Regions from separate parts of the Homo sapiens genome. Here region 1 is linked to region 2. The links come from fine-mapping of genetic effects on gene expression. A gene starts in region 2. The other region holds a variant in brackets. All regions are shown on one strand. Distances are between the middles of the regions.

Region 1 (5,372 bases), 110 kb after region 2:
ACTTACACACTTACACCACACACAACCTGCCCACTCACACTTGCACACCCTCACACACCCACACACACACTTGCACACTCACACACACTTGTACACACTCACACGTGCTCACCCACACACACTCCTTTCAGTTCCCGTCGTGAGAAGAAGCTGAACCGGAAGTTGGTAAGCCGAGGTCTGCCCACCATGGTACTGTGTTCTTCAGCCTTCTTAACTGTGCAGTGGGGAGGAGAGGCATCAGATAATATTTACCTTGCTTTCTACTTTTCAGTCTGTGGTTTTACAATCTCCCTGACTCTCACCCCATCCAGGCATCTGAAAGGTTGTGTGGAAGCAAGGTTGAGTGAGAGTGGGGAGGGGGAGAAAGGGTGGCAGGAGGGTTTGGTTTCTGGGGCCTGAGTAACTCTGGCCTTGAACATTCCCGCGATCCCGACAGATTCCCAGGTGGAATAAAGACCTGGGGGCCCCAGTGGCTGCTAGAAAGGGCTGACCAGGGGTCTTCCCCTTTTGACTAACATGTCTTGGAAATATGGGGTCTGTGTTATATAAGGAATTCCACTCTCCCTCTGCCTACTGGGAAGATATTCTCCATATTTCTTGGAGTTCCTCACTGGTGTAGAAAATGAAATGGGTTTGAGGACATGTAATTTCCATGTTTTTATTGGTGAAACTAAACTGGTTACAGCAATGCTTAGATGTCTCCACCAAGCTGTACACCTCACGCCTTCTCCTTTCTCTGTGTCTGTTTCTTCTTTCTTGCCTAGAAAAACTCTGAGCTGGACCCCAGCCGGGCCTCCTGCCACTTCAGACATTAATATCCATCTAAATTCATAGACAAGAGCCCAGAGCTGCCAGCCTGCAAGGGGGTGTTCCCAGGACAGGCCACATGGAAGGTGCAGATCAGAACCCAGTCCTTCCATCTGTCTCTGGTAGCCATCCCTCAACATCAGGCTGGCCCTCCCCTCGCTCTGGATTGATTTTATAGAATTCCCTAGAAATGGTTCTGTTAGCCCCAGGTGGAAGCTGTCACCTGAATGAAATCTTACAGGTCATATCTTTTGATCTTTTTCTAGAAGGTACTAAGAAGACAGAAACAAGCAAAGCCGCCACCACAGAGCCCGAAACAACCCAGCCGGAAGGGGTGGTGGTCAACGGGAGGGAGGAGGAGCAGACGGCAGAGGAAATCCTCAGCAAAGGCCTGAGCCAGATGACCACCAGTGCTGACACGGATGTTGATACCTCTAAGGACAAAACCGAGTCGGTCACCAGCGGCCCCATGTCCCCAGAGGGCTCACCTTCCAAGTCTCCCTCAAAGAAGAAAAAGAAATTCCGAACCCCCTCCTTCCTGAAAAAGAGCAAAAAGAAGGAGAAAGTGGAGTCCTGATTCATGACACCCTTGGGCTCCCTCCTGCCTCCTCTCTCTCCTCCCCTTCCCTTCTCCCATCTCTGTCCCTGCAAGCACAGGGCTAAGGAGGGATAGAGTAGGACCCTGGACCACATTCGGAAGGGGAACTTAGAGATCACCCGACCAACCCTTCGTTTTACAGTTGCCCAAGAGAAATCAGGTGACTTGCCCAAGGTCACACAGCTAGTTAGCGGCAGAGCCTGCACTCGAATTCAGGTCTCCTGACTTCCAGTCCAGTGCTCCTTCTACTACACAACACTGCCTAGTTGTGGGCTGCCTTTGTTTGGATGCTGTCCACCAATCTGAGCCTAGGGCAAGAAGGCCAGAAATGGGCCGTGAGCTCTCACAGGCTCAGACTAAATCAGAGGTCAAGGCTTCCCCTGAGTAAGGTCCATTTCTTCCCAGGAATCCAATCTCCTGTGGATGGAGCTATCTCTACATTTAAAAATCTCTTCTCTTTTCCACTTTGGGTCCCTGCCCTGCTGCTCAAAGTGACTAGCCAAATTGACCCCTCCAACAGAAAGTAATCTTTGTTCCCAAGGGCTGATGGCTTAGCTTGTACTACCCCAAACATTAACCCTGAGCTTTCTTCATGGAACCTCTTGAATGATGGATGGAAGAGCTATAAGAGGTGGTAGGCATAGGGGCAAGCCATGTAAGCTGAGGATTGGGGATGGTTTCATCAACATAAGAGGCCAGGAACTTGACCCCTTTGAATTGTGCATCTCAGGCACTTCAAAACTAAAACCAAATTTAGCATAGGAAAAAGTTGTTTAATGCTCAGGGCAGAAATTTGGGGAAGTTGAAATCCTCTGTTGGCTTTGGGTTGTATAAGGAGGATCAAAACAACAGAGGAAATGCTGACTTTCTAGCTTTGCATGACACCTGGAGCAATGCACTGTACCTGCCTCACTCCTGTCCAGTGGTCAGGTTTCCCCTGACCTTCCCTCACCCCCAGAAACACTTGCTTACAGACCGAAACTGGCATCTTACTCTTGGCACCTTGACTTGCACCCTCTGAGGTTCCAACTCAGTCA[T/C]TCTTTGTCCAGCAGAGGAGAATCAGAAATGAGCCCTTCAGGATTAATCCTCTTGCACCAGCTCTCAGAGAAATGCTGGGTATCCCTGTCCTTGTCCCTATCTGTCCATCCTGGGGCCTGGTAATGGCCACAGTTATTGTTTTAAATGCCAACACTGTCTTCTCATGTTCTTCCGTGGGGCATTGATTAATGAGCATTTGTTGGCTCCTAAAAATTAGACAATCCATTCTCTTGAAAGCACCGTGTCTTGAAAGAATATTTTTCCTTTTGATCTGACTATCGTGAAAATATTTTTGAAAGTTCTTAATCATAGTTTTCCACTTTTGAGCACTTGCTATCTATAGACACTGTGCAGGCTTCACATACATTACATTCTTTAACCCTCACAGTAATCCTTTGAGGGGGGTAAGATCATTCCCATTTTGTGGGTGAGGAAATTGACCCCCTAAAATGATAATTGACTTGTCCCAGCTGACTTGGCTAGAAAGATCTGGATCCTGGATTTGAATCCAGGTCAGTCTGAGTCCAGAGCCCTTGCTCTTAACAGCTATGGTGAACAGACAACTTTAATCCCCAGGGGTGGTGGTTTTCATCCAGGATTTGTCTCTATGACTGTTCTCCATTGCATAATGTTAGCACGTGAAGCAAAGGTAGGGAACACCCTGTGCTCATCCTCATCACTGCACGTGAAGTTCCTGGTCAATGTGGACTGTGGTGATGCTACTGTGTGCCTCTGACAAAGGAGAGGCAAGAGCCTTCTGGTTGGGGCGGGAAATACCATCCATAGTTGGCTATTTCTTGAGAAGGAAGGAAACTGACCTAGGACCAAGGTAAACCTGACACTGTGTCTCTCTAGTGCAGATTCCTAACTGCTACCCCAGGCTCCATCTCTGTTCTACTTCCTGATTGGGTCAAATTTTAGGAGGGACAACCCACTCATGCCTCAGAAAAATCTGTCATATGGGAAATGCCTTTAAAAGCCAATCCCTTGATGCCTTCTTTTAAAAAGTAGATTTCACACTTATTCATTTATCCTTACATGGTATTTGTTAAGGATCCACTGAGCACCAGGCATTATGCTGACGTTGAAAGAGAGCCATCATTATGACTAGAATAATAAGTGGCAAACGATGTTGTGAGAATGGTGAACACGACCTCTGATGCAGCCTTTTGTGTGCGAGTTGTTCTACTTCGGGGGTGATGTTGATTGCCTCTGCATTCAACACACTCTATTCCCTTGACAATGAGGCCTCACTTAGGCCTCATTGGGTGGAGTCTTGCTGCAGCATTATTCTGGGAATTTATGCCATGGGCCCACTTTCTATTGATAGATGAACCTGTCAGTTGGTTCATTCCTCATGCATTCCAAAAACATGCATTGAGCTTGGGTCAAGGGCCAGGCATGAGGATAGGCATAGTTCCTGCCCTCAAGAAGTTCATGAGCATAGGAGGTGTATAGACAAATTGCAAAACAGGCAAGGGTACCAAGGTGGCATAAGAAAGCATCAATTAACTATCTTGGGGACCAGAGAAACCCTGAGAGAAGCAATGGCTGCTAAGGTTTTAAAACAAAGAGTAAATTTCCAGTAGAATGAAAGGATTGGCAGGGCATGCCACAATGAGGGAAGAATGTGCAAAGGTGTGGACGCATGAAATGCCATGATGGGTTCCGCTGAGCAACGTGGCATTGCCAGAGCATGATGTGGAAGCTCAGGGGTTGAGGGGTCCCTTCATAGGTAGGCAGGGCTGAATCCTAAGGAAACTGGTAGGAAGTGTGGAGGAGCTAGACTTGTCATGGAAGGGGTTTGGAGCCACTGGAGCCTTTAAATCAGGATAGAGTCATGATCAGAATTGCATTTTAGGAAAATCCCTTTGGTGGCTGAATGGAGACTGTGGACTGGATGGGCGTGGGATGGTGGCATGGGAGCTATGAGGCCTTTTTGAAATGTCAATACTAAAACATAGTTGATGGCCTGCTTTACACGATGTTTCCTCTACAGCAGATAGTGAGTTTCCAACACAAAATTTATTTCCATAAAAGTCTTTGGATAAAGCACCTTAAGAGGGATTTTCAACAAGGAGAGGGGAGCATTCAAAGAGCTAATGTTTCCAGTTTTATTTTGTCTTGGTGTAGAATTGCTGGGAGAGGTGTCCAGCCATCCTGCCATTTCTTCTTCCCTTGCACAGAATGTGGCACATTTAGCTCCAGGCTTGAGGACATGCACCAAATGCTACAGAAACAGACATGTGGTCCAAACAAATCTACAGGCTATTAGAAAGGAAAGGCCATTTTCTTTGGCTGTGGATAAAAGTTGGCTGAAAACTTTGACCAATATCTGACTGGAGAAAATGTGTATTCAAGAGCTCAGATTTGGTGGGCAGTAGGTTCATGTCTGGTTGAGCTACTGTGCTTGGATGTGCCAGAGAAAAGGGTAACATTTGAACCAATGTGCTGCTCTGTGGCTGGCTGAGCTGGGAAGTGGAGAGGTTTCTGAGCTTATTTCCATCGCAAGGCAGGCAGGAGGAGAGAGGACAAGAAGGATTAGTGGTTTCGCAGAGACAGGCTTGGCTCCAACGGCTCCTTGCGTAGTGTTGGCTGCACCCAACAGTGGTGTGAGAGAACCGTCCATACCATGTGACCTTCCTCCCAAACTGCAGAAAGAGACACCTTCTAGCCCAGATCTGGACTCCCTAAGAGCCTCCTGGCCTGCATGCAACCCAAGTAACTGTCCTACTTTGGCCAGTTGACCCCCTCCACTCTCCTATAACTAAAACAGGGTTCTTCCTCTGTGAACAGATAAGTTCTTTTTAAAGGACTTGGGGGAAATTGGATGAAGAGCAGTAAGTTCTTACAGTAAGAACCCCACTGTAAAGCACTGCCCTCTGCCACTGATCCATGTAGACTGAATTTGAATCCCATTCCCTGTGGA
Region 2 (5,372 bases):
AGCCTCTAAACTTATGTGATGGTTAGTGGGATTCATTTCCTCTAGGACTTTTTTGGACTGAAGTTCTCAGTTTCCAGCTGGCTATTAGCTGGATGTCACCCTCAGTTCCTTGCCATGTAGATCTTCCAAACATGGCTACTAATGAAAGCATGCAGGTCAAGACGCCAACTGAGACAGTCTGCTAGCAAGACAAAGAATCTTATGTAATGTAATCACGGAAGTGAACATCCCATTATCTTTGCCTTATCCTGTCGGTTAGAAGTGAGCCACAGTCGTGCCAGCACCTAAGGAGAGGGTAATACACAGGGCAATGGATACCAGGAGATGGGGCTCACTGTTGCACTGCCAGCTTCTCTCTCTACTAGTTATTCTTGGCCAGAAACATTTTTGTCAGAAGACTTGGAAGATGAGAAATTTTACTGCAAATCAGTCAGAGAGTCTAATTTTAAACTATCTGGCCATGGAGGGTTAGCCAGCTGTGATTTTTCCCCGGTCTGACATGGGGGTCTCTTGTGTTTTTCTGGCCCCAGTTAAGGGCCAGGCATCTTGGGCTTGTTGCAGTGGGAGCTCTGAAGTCTCCTGGTCTCCCATTGACAGTTGGAGCCAACTACAGTTGTGGTTCCTTTTCCTGGATTTTGAAGTGAATTTGAAATTGAGAATTTCTGGAACTTCAATTAAAATTTCATATAGGCTATGAATATGGGAATTAATGAAGTCTTATTTCCTCTCTGACATTTGGACAATTCCTAAAGTCCCAGGATGGCACCACCTTCTCAGTATGCAGTATCAGATAGACCCTGGGAGAGGCCGGACATATATATATAAAAATATATGTAATATATATAATATATATTGTGTATATGTAATATATATAATATATACATATATAAACATAAATATATATATGTATCTCCTGTGATGACTAGGGGAGCAGAATCATTTTTTTTTTTGCCGGGGGGAAGGAGAATGTATTAGTCTTATCAGCCTTTCAGTGTCTTGTACCAGCTCTGCTTTAAAAAGTTTATTTTTGGCCAGGCGTGGTGGCTCACGCCTGTAATCCCAGCACTTTGGGAGGCTGAGACGGGCAGATCACCTGAGGTCAGGAGTTCCAGACCAGCCTGGCCAACATGGTGAAAACCCATATCTACTAAAAATACAAAAATTAGCTGGGTGTGGTGGTGCGTGCCTGTAATCCCGGCTACTCGGGAGGCTGAGGCAGGAGAATCGCTTAAACCTGGGGAGAGGAAGTTGCAGTGAGCTGAGATCATGCCACTGCACTCCAGCCTGGGGGGCAGCATGAGACTCTGTCTCAAAAGAAAAAAAAAAAGTTTATTGTCCCCTCTGGGAGGCCATGCAGTGTAGTGGTTAGGGCCCACAAACTCTGGAGCCACAGCACTTGAGTTTGATTCATTGCTCAGCCACCCACTAGCTGTGTGACCTAGGGCAAGCGACTTAACATCCCTGTGCCTCAGTCTCTTCATCTATAAAATGGGGATGATAATAGTACCACCCTCACAGAGTTTTTGCAAGGATTATGTGAAAATGCATGTAAAGCTCTCAGAACAGTGCCAGGAACCAACAAGGGTTTGCTAGGATTCATGTGAGAAAACAAAATAACACACTAGGAAGAGAAATTTTGGGGGATGGAAATGACTGGGGTGACTTATGAAACCTGCTATTTCTAACAAAAATTCTCCATTCTTTTTGGGGGTTCTATTAAGATATAGAGCCCACCTTACCTGTGACTTCTGAGCTCTGGAGAAGGGGTTCCCTGTTTCTCAGATCTCATCACCCATTAGCACCAAAAGAGCTATGGCTGCCAGGAATGACTCAATAAACATAACACGTCCTGGCTTCTTTGACCAGACAGACCTAGGTCCTGGGGTGGGGAGGGGAAGGGGTTTCATCTTGTGTGGCTGAGCCTGTTGTAATTCTTCTAGCAGGTTTTGACAGGAGAATGGGGAGAAGTCTTGTGGACTCGGTGATTCTGAATGAGAATGAGTGAGAAGCTCTGAGTGTGGAAGGAGGGTGCAGGGACCAGGTATGCATGTATGTTTCTTGGAAGGGGGGCTGAAGCAGAAAGACAAGTTTATCCTGGCATCTAGGGTTGTCGTTAGCATTTTCTTTTCTAAATCAGTAGTAGCTCTCAGAGTGGTGTTTCTAAAGTGTTAGTGTGCAAAGGAATCACTAGGGCTGCTTGTTAAAATTACCAATCCTGAGCCTACCTCCAGAGATTCTGGTTCCACAGCAGCACTGTGGTGGGGGCCAGTGACTTTTGTGGGGGTGTCTGAGGGCTGTGGTGCCCCAGAACCTGGAAGGGCAGAGGGGCCATGATCAGGTTTCAGATCAGTGGCCAGAGGCTTTTCTGGAAGCTGTACATTTTCACAAGCACATTTTCAAAAGCCCTTGGAGAGGATGTTGATTGAGGGGAGTTTTGGGGACTGGTGGAGATTATGGGGGTGAAAAGTCCAGAGCTATCTCTTAACACCCCTACTCTCTGAGGGCCAGGCCTTGAAAGTATTGGAAATGGGAGGTGCCTTAGGTACACTGTCATTTTACAGAGGAAGACAACGAGGCCCAGAGAGGTTAAGTGGGTTGATTAAGGTCTCACAGCTAGTTAAGAGCAGCTCTGAGACGGCAACCGAAGTATTCTGGTTCCCTATCCAGTTCCCCACTCACTACACACCTGTTCCTTCTGGGGCGGGAGACCTGAGGAAGGAAAGGAGTGAGAGGAGAATGTAGTGAGAGTTGGAGAGCGTTGGGTCCACAGCCCCCAAGGGCAGGGCCACAACAAAAATGTTGTCCTGGTTGAAAAGGAGTGAGAATCAGGACAGGGAGAATTTTGGTTTGGAATTCAGTCAAACAATTGCTATTAAAATCACTAATAGAATTATCTTCCGAAGGCTAGCTGTCCTTTCCAGACGAAAAGAAATATTCCAAGTCTAAGACTTTTGCTTTCTTCCTTCCAGGGAGAATACATTCCCCCAAGGGAGCTCTGTTTCAGATTTTCTCCCTAGTAACAGACTCCCCTGCTTAGCTCTGGCCATCCCGGGTAGTGAGTGGTGCGGGGCGGGGGTGGAAGGGGGCTGGAAGCCTGGCTAGGGGGGTCTGCGGCGGCGCGGGCGGGGGCGCTGCGGGGAGGAGGGGGGCGCTGCGGGGCGGTAGTGGGGGTGCTGCGGGGCGAGGCCGCTGCGGGGCGGTGGGGGGCGCTGCGGGCGGGGGCACTGCAGCACCGCGGCCCTCGGGCGGCCGGCGCGGCCTGCTGGAGGGGGCGCTGTGGGCACCGCGCAGCGGCCTTTTGTCAGCGCGCAGGGCCAGGAGAGCTCTCATTTCCTCCCAGCCTCGTGCGGGAAATGGCTTTAATTCTGACGGCAGGGCTGTGAGGGACTAGCGGGAACCCGAGCCTTTTGTCAAGGAACTGCGGCGTCGGTGGCCAGTCATCCCCGCCGCCGCGGAGCCGCTGCACTGCTGGGGGATCTCCCAGCAGCTCTGACGAGCGCGGGCTGCAGCATGGGCAGAAAACGCTGCCCTGCAGATTAGCTGGGTGGATTTTTTAAGCGCACCCCACCCCCCAAACCCATAAAATAACAAAACCAACCCGCAGTGGCCGACCGGAGATAGCTAAGATGCCGCGCAGGAGGTAAGGGTCTGGGGAGCGGGCCTGGTGGGCTGCCTGGGGTCGCTGGTCTCCTGGCGCGGAGACCCTGGCATCCCTCGGCCGGGCGGGAGCCGCTTGGCCCAGGTGGGGCGCGTCTGTTGCCGAGCGCGTCGGTGCTGCAGCCCTGGCCGGCAGCGGTGTGTTTTGCGCCTAAAGGTTTCTGGTGATGATGTAGCATCCGAGGCTCTTAGGAAATCGGGGCTGCAAGCACTGGCCCCTGCTTGGGGATGGTGGGACCCTCGCCCGGAGCGTAACGCCTGACAGGTGGGGCTTTCTTTTGGGTCCGAATGGAGGGGCGGCAAGCCTCGCCTCGCCTAGCCGGGCGGGGCCGCTCCTCCCCTCCCCTCCCTCCCCTCCCCTCTCTTTCCTTCCCGCTCGGCCGCCGCCCTCCGGGGTAGCGGTGCGAGGCGGGCTTGGCGGGGCTGGGCGCGTCCCCCGGGGCCTCGCGATCGCTGGCTGCGCGGCGCTCAGCCGCAGTGGCCGGCCGAGCAGGTGCGGCGTCGGCAGCCGCCTACATTGAGATCGGGGCAACCGGCACGTGAGCGGGCCTCGTGGGTTTTGATTTTATGCGGCTCCACCACTTTGGAGGGAAAAATCCCACTGTACCCGAGGGGGTCTTGCCAGTCTGTTTCTTCCATCTTCCCTCTCCTCTCCCTGCCTCCCCTCCCTTTCTGCAGCCGGGGCGGAGGCCATCCCCGGTCCCGGAGGCGGGAGTCGGTGTCTGCTTATTTTTAAATCACACCACAGCCTACCTGGTGTTGGGGGGAAGGGAGGGAGGGGCAGACTGCTTTAGGATGCAGATCAGGCTCTCGGGTCTGGCCTATTGTCTTGCCTTTTCTCTTCCTTCCTTTTCTCACCCCTAATCTCCATCTCTTGCCCAAAACTAAAAATAGAAAATAGGAAATAGAAATAGAAAATAAAAAAGCAAGCTCCAGCCCACACCCTATCAAATTCTTTAAAAAACTGTCATTTATCTCTGACACATGATTAATACCCATCTGTTTCCTTACACCCACTCTTCCCTCTTGCTGTTTGTCGTCTAAGATTCAACTGACTCAGATGAGCTTTATCGATAATAGAAATCAAATCTCAGTTTCCTAAATGCACATTTCGTGCTTCCCGAGTAACCCAAAAGGAGTGGTTGGTCTGGCATCCTGGCAGAAGCAAAGGGATTGGAGAGGGTGCAAGCAACTGCTTTCATGTCTAGTTTGTGGATCTAGCTGGGATTCCTGAGATGTTTAACTTGTGCAGTGAGGGGTGTTCTCATTAATGGCATTAGAAAATTATGTTCCGTTTTAAGAGAAAAATAGCAAGTCAGCATTTGAAGTAAAAGTGTTTTAAATGAATCTGACCAAAGAAGAGAACTATGACGTTTCAGACTTGCAAATAATATCTCCATTAGCATATGAATAATATATGTTAGAGACTTAAAAGGGGGGTTTAGACCATTTAATATTTTTACTTTATAAGGTTCTACTTTAATTGTGTAATGTGATCAAACTTTTCTCTGTAGAGACTTTTCTCCTATAGATCAGGATCTTGCCCAGCCTTTCTTCCCTACTCCTCCCTGCATAGGGCACAAGTAAAAGCAAAGTTTTCATTATTGGTATGATGTCAACACATTTTGAAAAACCACTAAAGATAAATTATTCTTTGATCCAAAATCCATAAGAATTTTGTAGTAAGCCCTATGTTCTTTCTTGTCCACCAAATT

What was found.
Region 1: its variant is fine-mapped to the expression of ADD2 in whole blood (TOPMed, PIP 0.98).

What each region holds. Positions count from the first base shown.
Region 1 is chr2:70,659,437-70,664,808 of GRCh38, reverse strand. ADD2 (adducin 2) reads left to right here. Exons shown (of 16, transcript NM_001617.4): 16 at 1,074-5,372. The coding sequence ends at 1,384. Among named protein-coding and RNA genes, the nearest start is that of ADD2, 110 kb to the left of the region's middle. The variant T/C (reference allele first, on the strand shown) is at 2,443.
Region 2 is chr2:70,766,154-70,771,525 of GRCh38, reverse strand. It overlaps ADD2 (adducin 2), which reads left to right and starts at 3,326. Exons shown (of 16, transcript NM_001617.4): 1 at 3,326-3,640. RefSeq lists enhancers at 1-3, 2,086-2,650, 3,060-3,625, 3,626-4,191.